Linked DNA regions of Homo sapiens: region 2 is linked to region 1. Evidence: fine-mapped expression QTL. Tissue or cell type: testis. Region 1 holds a variant in brackets; the other region holds the start of a gene. All regions are shown on one strand. Distances are between the middles of the regions.

The links. PIP is the estimated chance that this variant, and not a neighbour inherited with it, causes the effect.
Region 2: it holds the start of ATP6V1B2, and the variant in region 1 is fine-mapped to the expression of ATP6V1B2 in testis (GTEx, PIP above 0.99).

Annotation. Positions count from the first base shown.
Region 1 is chr8:20,232,382-20,240,488 of GRCh38, reverse strand. No RefSeq gene overlaps it. Among named protein-coding and RNA genes, the nearest start is that of ATP6V1B2, 39 kb to the right of the region's middle. RefSeq lists enhancers at 5,276-5,785, 5,786-6,295. The variant C/A (reference allele first, on the strand shown) is at 4,096.
Region 2 is chr8:20,194,163-20,202,269 of GRCh38, reverse strand. ATP6V1B2 (ATPase H+ transporting V1 subunit B2) reads right to left here and starts at 4,889. Exons shown (of 14, transcript NM_001693.4): 1 at 4,728-4,889. The coding sequence starts at 4,863. RefSeq lists a silencer at 4,836-5,115.

The DNA.
Region 1 (8,107 bases):
AACATGTTGAGAACTCCATCTCTACTAAAAATACAAAAATTAGCCAGGCGTGGTGGCACGCACCTGTAAACCGAGCTACTCAGGAGGCTGAGGCAGGAGAATCGCTTGAACCCATGAGGCAGAGGTTGCAGTGAGCTGAGATCGCGCCACTGCACTCCAGCCTGGGCAAGAGAGCGAGACTCTGTCTCAAAAATTAATACTAATAATAAATAAATAAATACATAAATAAATAAATTGCTTAAACTCTCTGGGCTTCAGAGGGTTGTTTTGACAATTATATGAGATAATGCTCAATAAAAGTTAAAGCATTGCTACTGTTTATTATGACTACCACAATTTAGTGACATGATACTTATTAGTATTTGTTAACAAAATGTCCCTGCTTCAAGCCAAGATGAGTTACAGTGGTGCCCCAAGCTCCCTTGGCCTGGCGAAGCTCTACCCCGTGGAAACAACAGATCTTACTCTGATGAGCTACCTCCCCAGCTCCCTGCAACCTTTTCTCTCCAGGTTTCAATACCAGAAGGCTGCCTTATGGGGGTATGCCCCTGGGACCGAGGGCACAGCCGGAGGAAAGAAAGGAACAAGGAGGGATTTGCTGGGGGGTGTGGTGAAGGGCTGGGCCGGGCCACCCTGTGACTGTGACACTGACCAAAACCCCCGGCCGAAATGGAACTGGTTAAAATCCTTATTCACTACCTTTGGCACCTCTTTCCCTCTCCCCCCTCTCTCAGCTCTGCCACATAGTGCCAGCCTGAGCGTATACGCATGCACACACACACACACATGCACACGAGCATGCACACATGCAGCCCCCCCACCTCGTTCTCCTTCTGCCCCTTGCCCCCCACTGCCTCAATTACAGCTAATTGAGAGGTAAATAGGCTCATGACAGCAGTTGTAATCAGTGACAGGTGAAGCAAATTAAATTTCTTACACCAAAAATAACAGGACGATTTGCCTGCCACGGCCCGTCATTCAGATGGCCCCCTCTTGGGTTGCGGGGGCCGTGAACACATAGCCTGCGGGTTTCAAGGTCCAGGGTTCCCTTTGCTTGACTGGTTTTCCAGGCAGACTCCAGGGACTCAGCAAAGCAAGCTGGGGGTGGCGGGTATTATCCATACCAAATAGAAAGGAAGTGCCCTGGAGTCCCTGGAATTGACTGGGCTGGGTGCTGGCTGACTTCTCAATCCTGTCACTTGCATTTAACCCTCACAGCAGCCCTGCATTCTACACTGTCCTGTGCACAGTGGATAGTCGCAGCCCCAGGCCTGACTGTGGCCAAGGCACAAGCTCTTGGTCTGCTGCTGGGTTGCCTCCTCCTCCCAGCCTTGCTACAGCTGTGGACAGAAGTCACAGTGGTGGTCAGGGTCACCTTGCTGTCCTCCCACACTATGCATCACAGTGGCCCAGCTCTCCTAGGCCACCGTTTCTTCTGGCCCCTGAAAAACACCCATCTGAGCTGGGAGGTGCTTGGCCTGCTCTGCTCACCTGGATTGCTGCCATGCTGGAGCAGGGGGGTTGCCTGGGACCCGCCCACCCCTCGGAAAGAGGAAAGGAGTGGCCTGAGCGCCACTGCCCACTGTCAACCTCACCTGCCTCCTTCATCAGCTTCCCAGGCCCCTCCCTTGTGAAGCAAATGCTTTCCAGGGAAATTCTGGCTCCAGCCTTCATCTGGCTGGGCCTCCAAGACTATACTTAGAAAGTGGGAGAGGACACAGGCGTGCCAATGGGCCAGCTCCAGGGAGAGCTGGCATCACCCAAGACTCATGCTGCAGAAAACCAAAGGCAAGTCCCCCACTCAAAGTCCCGCTCCCGCCACCCAATCTGGTTACCCCCTGCCTCCCCCTGCTTCCTGAGCCCAAGAGCAGTGTACGCGCTCAGGCCCAATTTCCTGCTGCTGCCTTACAATATTATAGTTTGATAGAGGATTTTCCTACTTATAGACTCCCAAAGGGTATAGCTATATCAGAAAAGGAAAAAGCGTATCAAGCAAATGTGCTTTTCCTGTACACACACACACACACACACACACACACACACACACACACACACTGCTCTTTTTCTCTAGCTTCTAGATGTCTTTTAAACTTAGGGCTTCAGAGGTGTCTGTGTGTGTGCATGCATGTGGTTTTGTGTCTGTGTATGTACGTGTGTATGTATGTGCATGTGTACGTGTGTATGCGTATATGTATAGCTGTGCATGTGTGACTCTATGTATGTGTGCATGTGTATATATGGGGGTGAGTGTATGTGTGCATGCATGTGTATGTCTGCATGTATATGTGTGACTGTGCGTATGTAAGTGCATGCATGTGTGTATGTGTGGGTGTGAGTCTATGTATATATATGTTTATGCATGCATATGTTTATGTAAATTGTGTGCATATATGGGGTGGGTTGAGTGTATGTATGTGAATGTGTATGCGTATATATGTATATGTGTATGTGTGTATGTATTGTGTGTATCTGTGTGTATACATAGGGGTAGGTGTGAGTGTGTGTATGTGTATTATGTGCATATCTGTGTGTATATGTGTATATATCTGTGTGTATGTGTGTACGTATGTATATGTATATGTGTATGTATGTGTGTGGGGTGACAGGTGTGAGAGTGTATGTGTATGTATGTGTATATCTGTGTGTATATATATGTATGTGTGTATGTGTGTATTTGTATATGTGTGTATACATGGGGGTAGGTGTATGTATGTACATGTATGTACATGCGTATCTGTGTGTATGTGTGTGTATATCTGTATAGGTATATGTGTATGTGTGCGTGTATAAATGGGGGTAGGTGTGCCTGTATGGTGTATGTGTATATATGTGCATATCTGTGTGTATGTGTGTATATATATGTATATGTGTGTGTATGTATTTGTGTGTGTGTATACATGGGGGTAGGTGTGTGTGTATGTGTACATATGTGCATCTGTGTGTGTATATATGAATATTTGTGTGTATGTGTGTATACATGGGGGTAGGTGTGAGTGTGCGTGTGGGTATGTGTATATGTATGTGCATACCTGTGTGTGTATATGTATATGTGTGTATGCATTTGTGTGTGTGTGTATACATGAGGGTAGGGGTGTGTGTGTGTGTGTGTGTGTGGATGTGTGGATGTGGGTGGGAGGGGCTGAAGGGTGTCCGCATATGGAAGGTGCTGCTTTCCTTCCATTCTTTCGTTTTATCCCCACCCCCACGGGCACCAGGGCACCTGCTAACCTCCCAGAAGTGCCTGTGATGCGGATGAGGACTCAGGGCGCAGACCTGTCTGAGGGAAGAAGTTTCCGGGCGCAGACCTGTCTGAGGGAAGAAGTTTCCGGGTGCAGACCTGTCTGAGGAAAGCTTTTCTGGCTACACCTTGGGGAAGACCTTGGGGAAAAGAAGTCAGAAGGATGGGTAGAGAGGTGAGTTCACCACGGGGCAGTCACAACGGAGGGCTCAGCTGCTCCTCACCCGGGGTGAGATGAGAGGGCTAGGCCTTGACGTCCCCACCCTTACTCCAACCCCACACCCAGCCAGTGCCTGGGCCCCCTCCCCAAGCTGGGATGGATGTGTGCCTGGGCCAGGGCAAGCCTCAAAGAGGGACGCAGCTCTGCACTCTCAACAGCTGGGGAGTGAAAGCCTCACCCTAGAGGGGAATTCGGGTCACCCCCGAGTCCCCCCACGCCCTCCTTTCTCTCCCCTCTTCTCTGCACTCATCATTGCCACGCCCCCGGCCTCTGAACCCTGCCCCACAAACCAAAGCCTAATGGATGTGGCAGAGTCTCTCACCAGTCCCCATCCCCCAAGCCCTCCATGGATGGCACTAAAACCAAACCTCACATCCCGGGCCAAGCTGCAGCATGGGCTACATTCACGCACCTCCTCCTGCCCCACAGCCAACTGTGTAGACATTTGTGGACACTCGCCGCCAGGAAGCAAACTGTCGGGGAGAAGGAACCTTGCTTGAATGTCTCCCATGTGCCTTGGCGTCCAGCCAGAGTCTGGGCTGGTGAGGGAAGAGGGCTAGAGCGGAGGTGGCTGCTTGTAGTTGTTCTGTGGGTTGCCCGAGAGCCAGCTCAGCTGTAGGTGACCCCTGACAGGTGG[C/A]CCCATCTTACCCTTCAATGCATCGGCCCCAGAAGCCAACCCAGCACCCACTGGCCCCCGGAGGTGCTCAGTACGAGGGCAGGAAGGGCTCTGGATGGGGAGTCAGACTTCCTAGGAGTTCGAGGCCAGTTCTCCCAGTTGGCCTTGAGCAAACCCCTTGACCTCCAGGGGCCCAGCTCCTCCTACCCACAGGGTCATGGTGATCCAGAAAGGACTTGGGCTGCCTGGTGAGGCCATTCTAGGCAGTAAATGACAGAGAAAGCGGCTGTTTCTAGGCTACCGTACTCGACAGAGAGAAGAGACGAAAGACTTGCGACCATGGGGGAGGTGGCCATGAGAGCTGAGGGCTTTCCCTGTCACAGCCCAGTGAGGCACACGGAGGCCGTGAAGACCCCCAGCACCCTGGGGGTGGGGGGAGCCGGGAGCAGGGTTAGCATGAGATGGGGTTCCTCCTGCTTTATGTCTCCCTGAAGGGCAGGCACAGTGACGGGCCCTGTTATCTCTCAGAGGCCCTGAGAGGAAGGGAAGCCAGCAACGCCTGCCCTGTGGGGAGAGAAGGGGTGGTCTTTGCGTCCAGTCCAATCTGTCCATCTAGGGATGGGGTCTCAGGGCACTGGTTACTCCTTAGTCACTTCGGGGCTTAATTACAAGGAGTGGGGGTGGAGGAGGGAAATGGGGAGTGGGTGAGGGGTGCGAGCCCTGGGGCTGGTTATCGCAGCCATGCTTCAGGGTGGCATCACACCATAGCGAGATCCTTGTGATGCTTTGCCACAAAGTTCAGGGGTCTGTCAGTTTCCTAGGGCTGCCATAATGAGTTACACAGACCACGTGGCTTATAACAACAGTAATTAATTCTCTCCCAGTTCCAGGGGCTGAGAGTTCAAGATCGAGGTGTTTGGTCCAGGGCTCCGTTCCCCCAGAAGGCTCCAGGGGAGATTTCTTCCTCGCCTCTTTCAGCTTCTGGTGGCCCCAGGTGTTCCTTGGCTTGTATTCACATCACTCCCATCTTCGCCTCTGTCTGCATGGCTATCTCTTCCCTGTCTCTGTGTCTTTATGCGGTGTTTCCCCCTCTGGGTCTCTCTTCTTATAAGGACACCAGTCCTATTGGATTAAGAGTCACTTCCTCTTAACTAATTACATCTGCAATGACCCTATTTCCAAACAAGGTCACATTCTGAAATCCTGGGAGTTAGGACATCAACATGTCTTTTGCGGGGACACAATTCAATCCGTTAAAAGGGGCACTGGGAGGACTGAGATTCAAGAGTGCAAGCACAGGTTTGGGACTTGCTAAACGCCCGAGTCCCTCCTGCTCCGTCCAGACAGGGGCAAACCCCATGAAAAGGAGAGCTGCCAGACGGGGGAGGGTCCCGGGGAGTGTCTAGCGAGTGCTCGTGAACTCCGAGAGGTTGTTTAAACCGCCCTCTGTTAAGAAGGGGGTGGGGCCCGGGTGGGTAACTCACTCAAAGCAACATGATTTTCCCCAGAATAGACCCAGGTCCCAAGAGTGGGGCACAGGGGCCCGTCCCCCTTTGAAGTGCAAATGCCGGTCCCTGGGTGCAGCCCTCCCAGAATAATCAGTGTCTTGCATCTGCTGCCCCGCCTGAAGTGCGACCTGCCAGCTGCTCTCGTTCTCTGGATGCCCCACTGGCTGAAGTCAGGTGGCTGGAAGGATCAGGCCCCAGGCAGACCCGGTAATCAGCACTTAGCAGGGAGGGGGAATTAAGAAAACAGAGTGTTTAATGTGCTGGGTGGCAGCTGCGGTTCCGCTCCCATTTGCTTAGATACCTGCTGTCCCCGCTGGGCCCTGGGTGGGGGGAGGGCGGCACGAGCAGCCCTTTGTTTAACAGCAGCTCACTTACAGGAGCCCCAGGCTGTTGGGCAGGTCGCAGGAGGAGGATGGGACATTTGGTGGTTTTGATAATGATCAGCAGTGACCTTGGTGATAAAGATGCTTAGCGCCAGGCTCCCCTGTGACAGAGAGTCCCAGCTGGCTGCTCTAGGGTCACCCATGAGGCTCCACCTTAAAATCCAGAGCTTCTCCACAAGAGAAGTCAAGACCAACACCATAAACAGGAGGATTCTGTTCTAAAAGCTGGGGTTTGGGAACCAGACGGAGCAGGAGCAGCTATGGAGACTGGTGGTGAGACCTAGCGTGCCGTCGGACTTTGGTTATCTAGCCCAAACCTCAGTTTTCTCATCTGTGAAACAGGAATCAGTCGTTACAGGGTGGGCATGAGAAAGTGTATGTAAAACACCTGTCAATAATATTCAACGTACTCTTTCCTCGCTAAGACCTCTAGAAAGGGTTAAGTCCTGGCACCTGTCCCCCCAAAAAAGGGGTAAGGTCAGGTGAGAGAAAAACACCAGGTAGCCCCCTCCAGGCCTCCTGATGCTCAGACCTTGCTCAAGAAGGGATGGCTTCCTTCTTTCTTCCTCCCTCCAACCCCTTTATCTGTCCCTTCTCAGCCGTGACCACATTACCTCTTGGGCTACCTGCCTCTTTTAGGGCCCTAGTGGGGCAGATCTATCTCGGCTGAGATAAAACAAGGCCAATCTAAACAGCTCCTAGGCTGAGCAAGACAGCCTGAAATTCAATGTTCGCTGAGTGAGTGCTCTGGACATTCGACCACCAGTGAACAAACCCCCAGCACTGGCACCCGGAGCCTTGGGTCTACAGGCCCAGCCAGAGTGGGGGAAGGTGGGCTCGGACATGCAAAGCTGCCACCTGGGGGTGATGCCCAGGGCTGCCTTCTCCAGAGCTTCTCCTTGGAGGGGACAGAGCTGTGCCCCTGAGACTCTAGAGCCCACAGGGAAAGGCCTTCTGGGGCTGCTACCTGCTCCTTATGCCTTTCTGGGCCCCTCAGGGACATCAGTCCTGACGTGCCGCAGGGAAGGCCCCGTGGCTCTGAAGAGAAGGCATTGGAATAGGAACTATATTCCTTTGCTCGGGTGGGCTACTGTAACCAAGAACCACAGGCCAGGTGGTTTCAACAACTGAAATATATTCTCTCACAGTTCTGGAAGTCTGAAAATCAAAGTGTCAGCAAGGTTGGTTCCTCCTGCAGGCTGTGAGGGAGAATCTATTTCCTGCAGCTCTCCCAGATTCCAGTGGTTTGCTGGCAACCTTCAGCATTCCTTGGCTTGTAACTGCATCACTCCAATCTTCACACAGGGCGTCTGTCTTCCCATGGCCGCTTTTAAATAAGGACACCAGTCATATTGGATTAGAGGCCCACCCTACTTCAGTGTGACCTCATCTTAACTAATATCTACAATGACCCTAGTTCCAAATAAGGTCACATTCTGGGTACTGGGGGGTTAGGATTTAAATACATAGTTTTTGGCAGGGGACACTACTCAACCTGGACTTAAGTGTAGAGTAGGATTTGTTTGTTTTGAAGACAGAATCTCGCTCTGTCACCAAGGCTGGAGTGCAGCGGTCTGACCTCGGCTCACTGCAACCTCTGTCTCCTGGGTTCAAGCAATTCTTGTGCCTCAGCCTCCCAAGTAGCTGGGATTACAGGCGTGCGCCACCATGTCCAGCTAATTTTTGTATTTTTAAGAGAGACGGGATTTCACCACGTTGGCCAGGCTGGTCTCAAACTCCTGACCTCAAGTGATCCACCTGCCTCAGCCTCCCAAAGTGCTGGGATTACAGGAATGAGCCACCACGCCCGGCTGGATTGTGACCAAAGAAGTAGCACCCTCCTGATATTTGCTCTCCTAAATCTAGGGCAAGAGAGCTTTCCAGTATGACTTATTTGGGAGAAGACAAAAACGCTGGCGTGCTTGGGGCCAGGGCCTCTGGGGCAGGAAGGAGGCTGCCCTCCTGCATAATCGCTGTCTCTCCTCTGCCTGTGCACTGTGCTGGGAAGAATTAGGTCAGCCTTTGGGCTTTGCCATGAGGTAGCAGAAACTATTAAAAGCTGTCCTGTGAGCCGACTTAGAGCCCAGTGATTTAGCACGATTTGGAGAGAGGAGTGGCCTCACGCCTCTGCCTCATGGCTCT
Region 2 (8,107 bases), 38 kb after region 1:
GCCACTTATTCTTTGACTCTACTACAGCCCAAATTCTAAAACTGAACTGGTTCATTTTTTGTGGTATGGTATCTTGTAAGAATTATGAAGCGATACCACCCAAAACAATTTCACAAGCCTGCAATTTTAGGTATGCAAAACAGGTTTTTACTTTTTAACGCACCAGGCAATAAACTTCATCCCCAATGTGGCAGTACTGACAGGTGAGGCCTCTAAGAGGGGAATGGGTCATGAGGGCTCTGCTCTTATGAATGGATGAATCCATTCATGGGTTAATGAATTATCATGTGAAGGTAACTGGTGGCTTTACAAAAGGAAGAGAGACCTGAGCTAGTGCCCCTGCATTCTCAGCCCCCTCACCATGTGATGCCCTGAACCACCCTGGGACTCTTTCAAGTCCCACCAGAAAGAAGGCTCTCACCAGATGCGGCCCCTCCACTTTGGCCTTCCCAGACTCCAGAACTTTAAGAAATAAATTCCCTTTCTTTATAAATTACCCAGTTTCAGGTTTTCTGTTAAAAGGAGCAGAAAATGGCTAAGACAGTAGGCAAGGCTGATGCACCCTAAGGAAACTAAGGCCCTGATAAGTTTGTTTTTAAATGGGGGAGCCAGGCTTCTAACTGTTTTGTTTTTCTTTAATCTTAGGATTGGTACTCTATGACCCTTATAATATTTCTGGCCTTAGTCTTCAGTACAATTAAAAAGTATGGAGATCATACAGCTTCTAGCACTTGGACTACAAGTGGGGACAAAAAGACAATTTGTATAAAACTACAGCTCTTCTCCATGGTACTAAAACTATCTGCAAAGAAAACCAAGCAGAATGATAACAAACACTACCTTTTATCTCTAGATTTATCCAGCCTTCCTCACCATTACCATTAACAGCCCAAAACAGAGATACCAGTTTAAACTATGGCTGTCAAAGACATTAAGTTGCCCTTCAAAACAGGAAAAAACCCATTTGTAAATTACCTAAATATTTCTATTTACCTACATATTGACCACTCCTCTCCAAATGAAAAAGAATTTGAGCCCGTAGGTGTGTGAATGGGGGATAATCAGAACTTCTGACAACACAGAAGATATATGCTTATATTACCTTCTTAACATATTTTACAACCAAAATGTCTTGGCTTTGATTCTGAACTATCATATGAGCCAGACAAGTATTTATGAAGTAACATCTAAAACCCAAAATCTACACGGGTTTTAAGGAGCACATATTTTATCAGATGACATCCTCTTCCTCCTGCAGGATAGGATATTGCTCAACACTAGTAACACCATTTAATGATTACGAAATACTCAGAAAAAGTTGACAGCCATTGCATAATAAGTGTCCTAGTCTTTTAGCCTCTGCCTTATTAGCAAAACAAAAACCCAGAGCAATCATCTTCCCTTGTACAAGAAGAGTAGAGATCTGCATGATGAGCAGTGAGCACCTGAAGAAGAGGTTCTAGGAAAAAAGCAAGGAGAAGATTCCTATTTTGACTTTTTGCAGGGCTGGCTCTGCTTTATGATATAAGAAACTTAAGGCCAGTTGATCTAGGGTCTCAAGAAAAATGGAGATGACCAAATTCAAAATACATAGCACCCGAAAGCTCTATGTATGTTGTTGAATCTTTTCTTTTAAGAGAAAATCAAGTTTTCATTCCTTGTGACTTCAGAAATTCAACTAAAATGCTCAAGATAATTTCCTAATTTCAAGCCTGAATATGTTTTCCATTTCTTTTAAAAGTCCTATAATCTTGAAGCTATTTTTTAAAAGGATCTAATTTGTACAGTGGAACTGTCAACATTACTCCATTTCTTCATTCAAAAAACAAAGCTTTTTGAGTTTAAATGCAAGTTACACAATTACAAGGCACATTCTATGTGTCAGGCACTGTGCTAGGCAGTGGGGACACAAAAAGGATCTCTGACTTCTAAAGGTTCAGTGTGAAGCTTTAGGCTGGGCACAGCAGCTCACACCTGTAATCCCAGCACTTTGAGAGGCCATGGCGGGCGGATCTCTTGAGCTCAGGAGTTGTAGACCAGCCTGGGCAACATGGGGAAATCCCATCTCTACCAAAAATAAAAAATAAAAATTAAAAAAAATTAGCTGGACGTAGTGGTGTCCGTCTGTAGTCCCAGATACTTGAGAGGCTGAGGTGGGAGGATCGCTTGAGCCTGAGATGTGGAGGTTGCAGTGACCTGAGCTCACACCACTGCACTCCAGCCTAGGCAACAGAGTGAGACCCTGTCTCAACACACACACACACACACACACACAATAACTATAATTACATGTCCCCTTAAATGATAACATCAATCAATTCACAAAAAATTACAATCAATTTACAAAAATTAAGAGGTTGGCTGGGCGTGGTGGCTCATGCCTGTTATCCCAGCACTTTGGGAGGCCTAGGTAGGCGGATTGCCTGAGCTCAGGAGTTCGCCACCAGCCTGGGAAACACGGTGAAATCCCGTCTCTACTAAAATACAAAAAATTAGCCGGGCATGGCGGCGTGCGCCCGTAGTCCCAGCTACTCGAAAGGCTGACGCAGGAGAATTGCTCGAATCTGGAAGGCGGAGGTTGCAGCGAGCCTAGATCGCGCCACTCTGCACTCCAGCCTGGGTGACAGAGCGAGACTCCATCTCAAAAAAAAAAAAAAAAAAAAAACCCACAAAAATTAAGAGGTTAATCAATATTTACTCAGAAGCAATTAAAACTTTTGAGTAGAATAAAAAATATGGCAAAATAAGAAGATATTCAAATGCTGTTAGTTGTTAGCCTAAGTATGATATCATTTATGCTTTTTAGAATAACACGGATATATAAGTGAAACTCAACTCGACCGGGCATTTCAACTCCCTGCTCTGATTCCACCCATGTTCACAATCTATCCACTGAATTATTCGAGCAAGGAGTTTAAATGCAAGTTACACAATTACAAGACACATTCTATGTGTCAGGCACTGTGCTAGGCAGTGGGGACATAAAAAGGATCCCTGACATCTAACAGTTGAGTGTGAAGCCCTATGCTACAACAGTTTTGTCAAGAATAACGTCTGGAAAAATCCCTCAGCAACTGGGTAAGTACGTACAAACCATGGAGAAATCATATTCATCTCTCTTAAAGGTTTACAATCTTAATCATGGAGTACTCTTTAAACAACGTTATTTCAGTTGATATTCTCTGAATTGACACTGAATGATTAATTATATGGAAACTGACTACTGCACCTTTATAACCTTTTTTGAGAGGCACCACTAATGTCTATCTGTTCTACCCAAAGAAAGGCAATGCATACAAACGCAATTAATAAAAGAGAATTTGTAATTCGTAGGTATAAATTTATTGCCAAGGTTTGCATAAGAATGCAACATCTGCCGATTTCCTGAAGTAGCTACTTCAGCTCAGATAAGTCCCAACATACATTTTCTAATTCGAACAATTCCCAGTTACTGTAAAAGGCACATCTCAGCAATCCACCGAATCAAATGTTTTCCTTTTTCTTCACACTGCAGTGCTATCACATGACCCAGTGACAGATCAGGATGTGGATTAGTCAGGCTTCAGATCGCCCAGACTAACACCCTTCATCTGAAATCCTTTTTAATCAGTCGGCCACCTAGAGACAGACACTCTGGCAATTAACCAGTGAAAATGCAGTCTCACCACCTGGGGAAACATCATGTGCTTTTCCCAGTTTTTTAAAAAGTCTATTTCGAGGGCTCATTGCCAGTTCCGAAGAAAGCTGTGAAGAAGTTGGATGCTACACAACTGCATTCTCTAGTAATCAAGAACCATTTCTTTTGGAATTGCTGAGCTATCCACTTAAACCTAGTTCATTAAGGCCTTTTTATTTAAAAAATCACAACATTTAAACAAGCCTATGCACACACACCACCTATGGGCAAAGCCACCTGGCTTCCCCAAAGAACCCTGCACTCAACCAAGTTTGGTTAACTGGTCAGTAAATGAAGAGGCAACGGTAGAAAAAGGCCCAGCGAGAATTTAAGAACCTGGATTTTTAGTCCCTGCTCTGCCAATAATTAAGTGTCTGAAGCATGGCAAATCCTACCCCTTCCAGAACCTTAGGCTTCTCACCTGTAAAATGATAGGGTTGGACTGGATGACCTGCAAGGTACTTTTCAGCTCTAGCGTTCTCTGATATCTAGGTGTCCTTCTGCGGAGCAGCCCCTCCACCAAACACCAAGCCACATCTCCCTCTGGCTACTGGCCTGACCTCCATCCACGAAAGGCCTGACCACGTCAGCGAAGGCTCTACCGTCTGCCCTCCGCAGGAGTTGAAGACCCCATTGAGGTCCTCACCAGGGGGAGGGGAGAAGGGGCGTTCCCTCGACCCCTAGATATCCAAATGAAGTCAGGGGAAGATTAAGATCGGAGTGGCAAGAAGTGGCCCTCGGGGACGGGAAGCAAGTGCCTAAGAAGGCTCCAGCCTAGGGAAGCTGGGGAGGGGAGGGGGTAGGGCAACAGCCAGGAGCCCACCAACCCCAGGAAAAAGTTCCCGCTGGTGCTCTTGCCCTCAGCCCATCTCCTGGAAATATTAGGTACAGGCAAATCTCCTTCTAAAGAGACAAGTGGGTCAGGGTCGGAGGGGAGACGCGGGAGGGAAAAACAAATCCTACCCCCTACCCGCTGGCTAAGCAGGTGACTGGGAGCAAAGGGCTAGGCTAGGGAGCAAAGACCGGAGACGTATTACTCTCTGATACTCACTGAGGCGAGGCTGGGAGAGGTAGTTCCGACTGACTGCCAGCGCCTGCTCCCGAGCTCCCACCGCCGGCCCACCGGTGGGCACGGGTAGCTCGGGTGCGGCCCCGTTGACAATCCCCCGCATCGCCCGCAGCGCCATCTTGTCTCCTCTGTCCCGACTGGCCCAGCAGCGACGCCGCGCACGCGCAGATATACCAAGGCGGCCCGCGGCCCGAGGCTCCGCCTATGCGCGCTGCGGCGCCCCGGCCTCGCCCCGCCCCCTTCGCCGCCGGCCGCCCCCAGCCTCGTGACTTCGCGCCGCTGGGGCCAGACCTGCTTGCGAGCAAGAGGAGCTGACCAGCGTGCTGGGAGGCGCGCGCGGGCGCAGAGGGAAGGGAAGCGAAAGAGGGGAGATGGAAGGAGAGAGGAAAGCCAGCCGAAAGAGAGGCGCACAAGCGGAGTGAGGGGAGGAAGGCAAACGCGTGCAGGCCAACGTCAGCTGATATCCATTTCGAATGGGCTTTCGTGACGCTGAATGGAGAGAACTCAAGCTGTGAAAACCGCTTTGAAAAACAGAAGCAATGGAAAACATGTTTCAGTGATTATTAACACATGTGGCATCATTTAGTTCACTTTACTCCCTACCCAATTCGTTCACGCATGTATCCATTCGACAAACATATATTGGCTTGTTATAGGATGTGCGTAGCGGTGTGAAAAATAGGGGCAGATTTGGAAGCTGTGTAAGGGGTGGGACTAGTGTAGGATGACAGCCCAGGCTGGAGGCCGGAGCAATGGAATGGATTCTTCTTCTTCTTCTTCTTCTTCTTTTGAGAGGGAGTCTCATTCTGTCGCCCAGACTGGAGTGCAGTGGCGTAATCACGGCTTACTGCAACTTCCGCCTCCCGGGTTCAAGCGATTCTCCTGCTTCAGCCTCCTAAGTAGCTGGGATTACAGGTGCCCACCGCCACGCCCGGCTAATTTTTGTTTTTAGTAGAGACGAGGTTCTACCATGTTGGCCAGGCTGGTCGCGAACTCCTGACATCAATTGATCCCGCCGTCTTGGCATCCCAAAATGTTGGGATTACAGGCGTTAGCCACTGCACCCAGAAGATTATAATTTTTAAGTTTAACTAATGTCCAAAGTTGGCACGTGTAAAATTAAACAGGAATTGTAATACTTTACTGATAAGAGCACAATTGGTATGATATTTAGAAGAACAATTTGGTGATATCTCATTCAAATATTTTGGTACTAGGAACTTATCGTTCTCTCTCTCTGTAGATATATCTGTATCTATCTATCCACTCAGTGTATGTGACAAATATTTTCCATTATATATAATACATTACGTCATGCACCATATGGTATATATTATTATATATGGTCTACAGACATATACATGTATATATACATACACACAGATATTCAAAAAAAATTTTTGTAATAGCATAAACCTAGAAACAATCTAAATGCCCATTCATAAGTTATAGCCTATTAAGTCAAAGGTATTTCTCAAACTTTTGAAAAGAATTCAGTGGAGGCTCAAGGGTTGAGTTTTTTTTTTTAAAAAAAGTCCAAGACACATTATTAGGTTTAAAATAAAAAAGCAATTGCAAAATGCCATGTAAAGTAGATTAACATGTGAACAGTAGGAGAAATTTTATTTTTAATTTAATAATCTTTCTATGTAGTTTCACTGCTTTAACAGGTGTTTGTACTGATTTTTTCAAATACAATGCATAACAACTTTTTTAATAAAAATTACAAATCTAGTCTTCTCATGCCAATTTTTCACAATGGTAGGTAAATTTCATATGTGAATATCAGACTGTTAGTTGTTACAATTTTTATGTTATTCTTTTAGGAGTAGTTCATGGCTTTTACTTTAAAAAAAACCTGTTTTTAACTTTTTACTCTGGTAATAGAAATTAGTTGTGGTCTAATGTGTATACGTAGAGTGGTAACCCCAACATTTATTTAACAAACATCTGTTGAGAAAATGCACATGTGTATCGGGTGCTGATCTAAGTCCTGGAGATATATTTGTAAATAAACAAAGACTCTGTCATCCTGATACCTGTTGGAGGGAGAAAGTCAGAAAACAAACATGTAAATAAAGTGCCTGGTAGTGTCAAGTATGATGAAAAATAATAAAACAAGATAAAGAGAAAAGAGTGATCTAGACGAAGATAAGATTTTAGATGATGTGATCAGGGAATGCACTTCTCAGTCATCTGAGATCTGAATGGAGAGAGAAAGCAGATCATGGGAAGCTCTAAGAGATGTGTGGCATAGGCAGAGGGTTTTGCAAGTGCCAAGGTCCTGAGGCAGAAGAAGGAAAGTGGGGCTAGAATGGACACAGCTAAGCAGAGAGCAGCAGGAGAGAGGGCAGGGCCAGATCATGTACAGCTTTGGAGGCTATGCAGATAGCAGTTCGAATTATATTCTTAGAGTGATTGTAGAATTTTATGAAGGAGGAATATGATCTGATTAGGCTTTAAAGAGGCATGTTGTTCTACTGGGCAAAATATGAACTGGTGAAGAAGGCAAGAGAAAAATGGAGAGACCAGTTAGGAAGCTATTGTGATTGTCTGGGTGAGCAACATGGACTCAAACCAGATGATGGCTTTCCTACATAGCACGCTGGCCTTAGCTCTGTCACAGAGCTCATCGCAATAATGATATCATTAAAAAGTGGCCATTTATATCTTTCTCCTGCACTTTTCCATTCTGTAACCTCAGATATGGAATGGGGGATTGGCAAGGGGGATGTGGAGCACAGTGCAGCTGGGAGAAATATTTCAAATGAAAAAAACAATGATAGAGATAAGTCCAAGATTGCTGTAAAACAGGGATTATTAACTTGGCACCCTAGGAAGTCGGTGAAACGTTGTGCAAAATGTGTGCATATGGATATTTTCCGTGGAAATAACCCACAGATTTCTATCACATTGTCAAAGGAGCCTGAAACTCTTAAAGAAAACCACCAAGTAAGCATCACTGACAAATTGGGAGAGTGGTATTGCCATTTATGGAATCACAAGTGTTTAATCAAATTGCCACATGGTTGTGTCAGATAGTTGGTATCACTTGACACCGTCTCTAACTTCTCAGACAACTACATTTTTAAAAATTGTGTAATTTATTTGGATCTTACGATGGTACCTGTGCAAAGCGCAGGTAACCCAAAACTGTTAGTCAACTGAAATTCAGAGTTTCTTAGAATTATTTATAGCAATATTATATAAATGCTTTTCCTTGGGTTTAAAAAAATTATCCCCTTAATATGCAAGAAGGAAAAGGATAAATGAAGTGTTATATACATAGAAAAATACATTTAGGAAAATATAGAAAAGTTTTAGTTTCTCTAGTAATGAAGAAATTCAAACTAAGCATCACC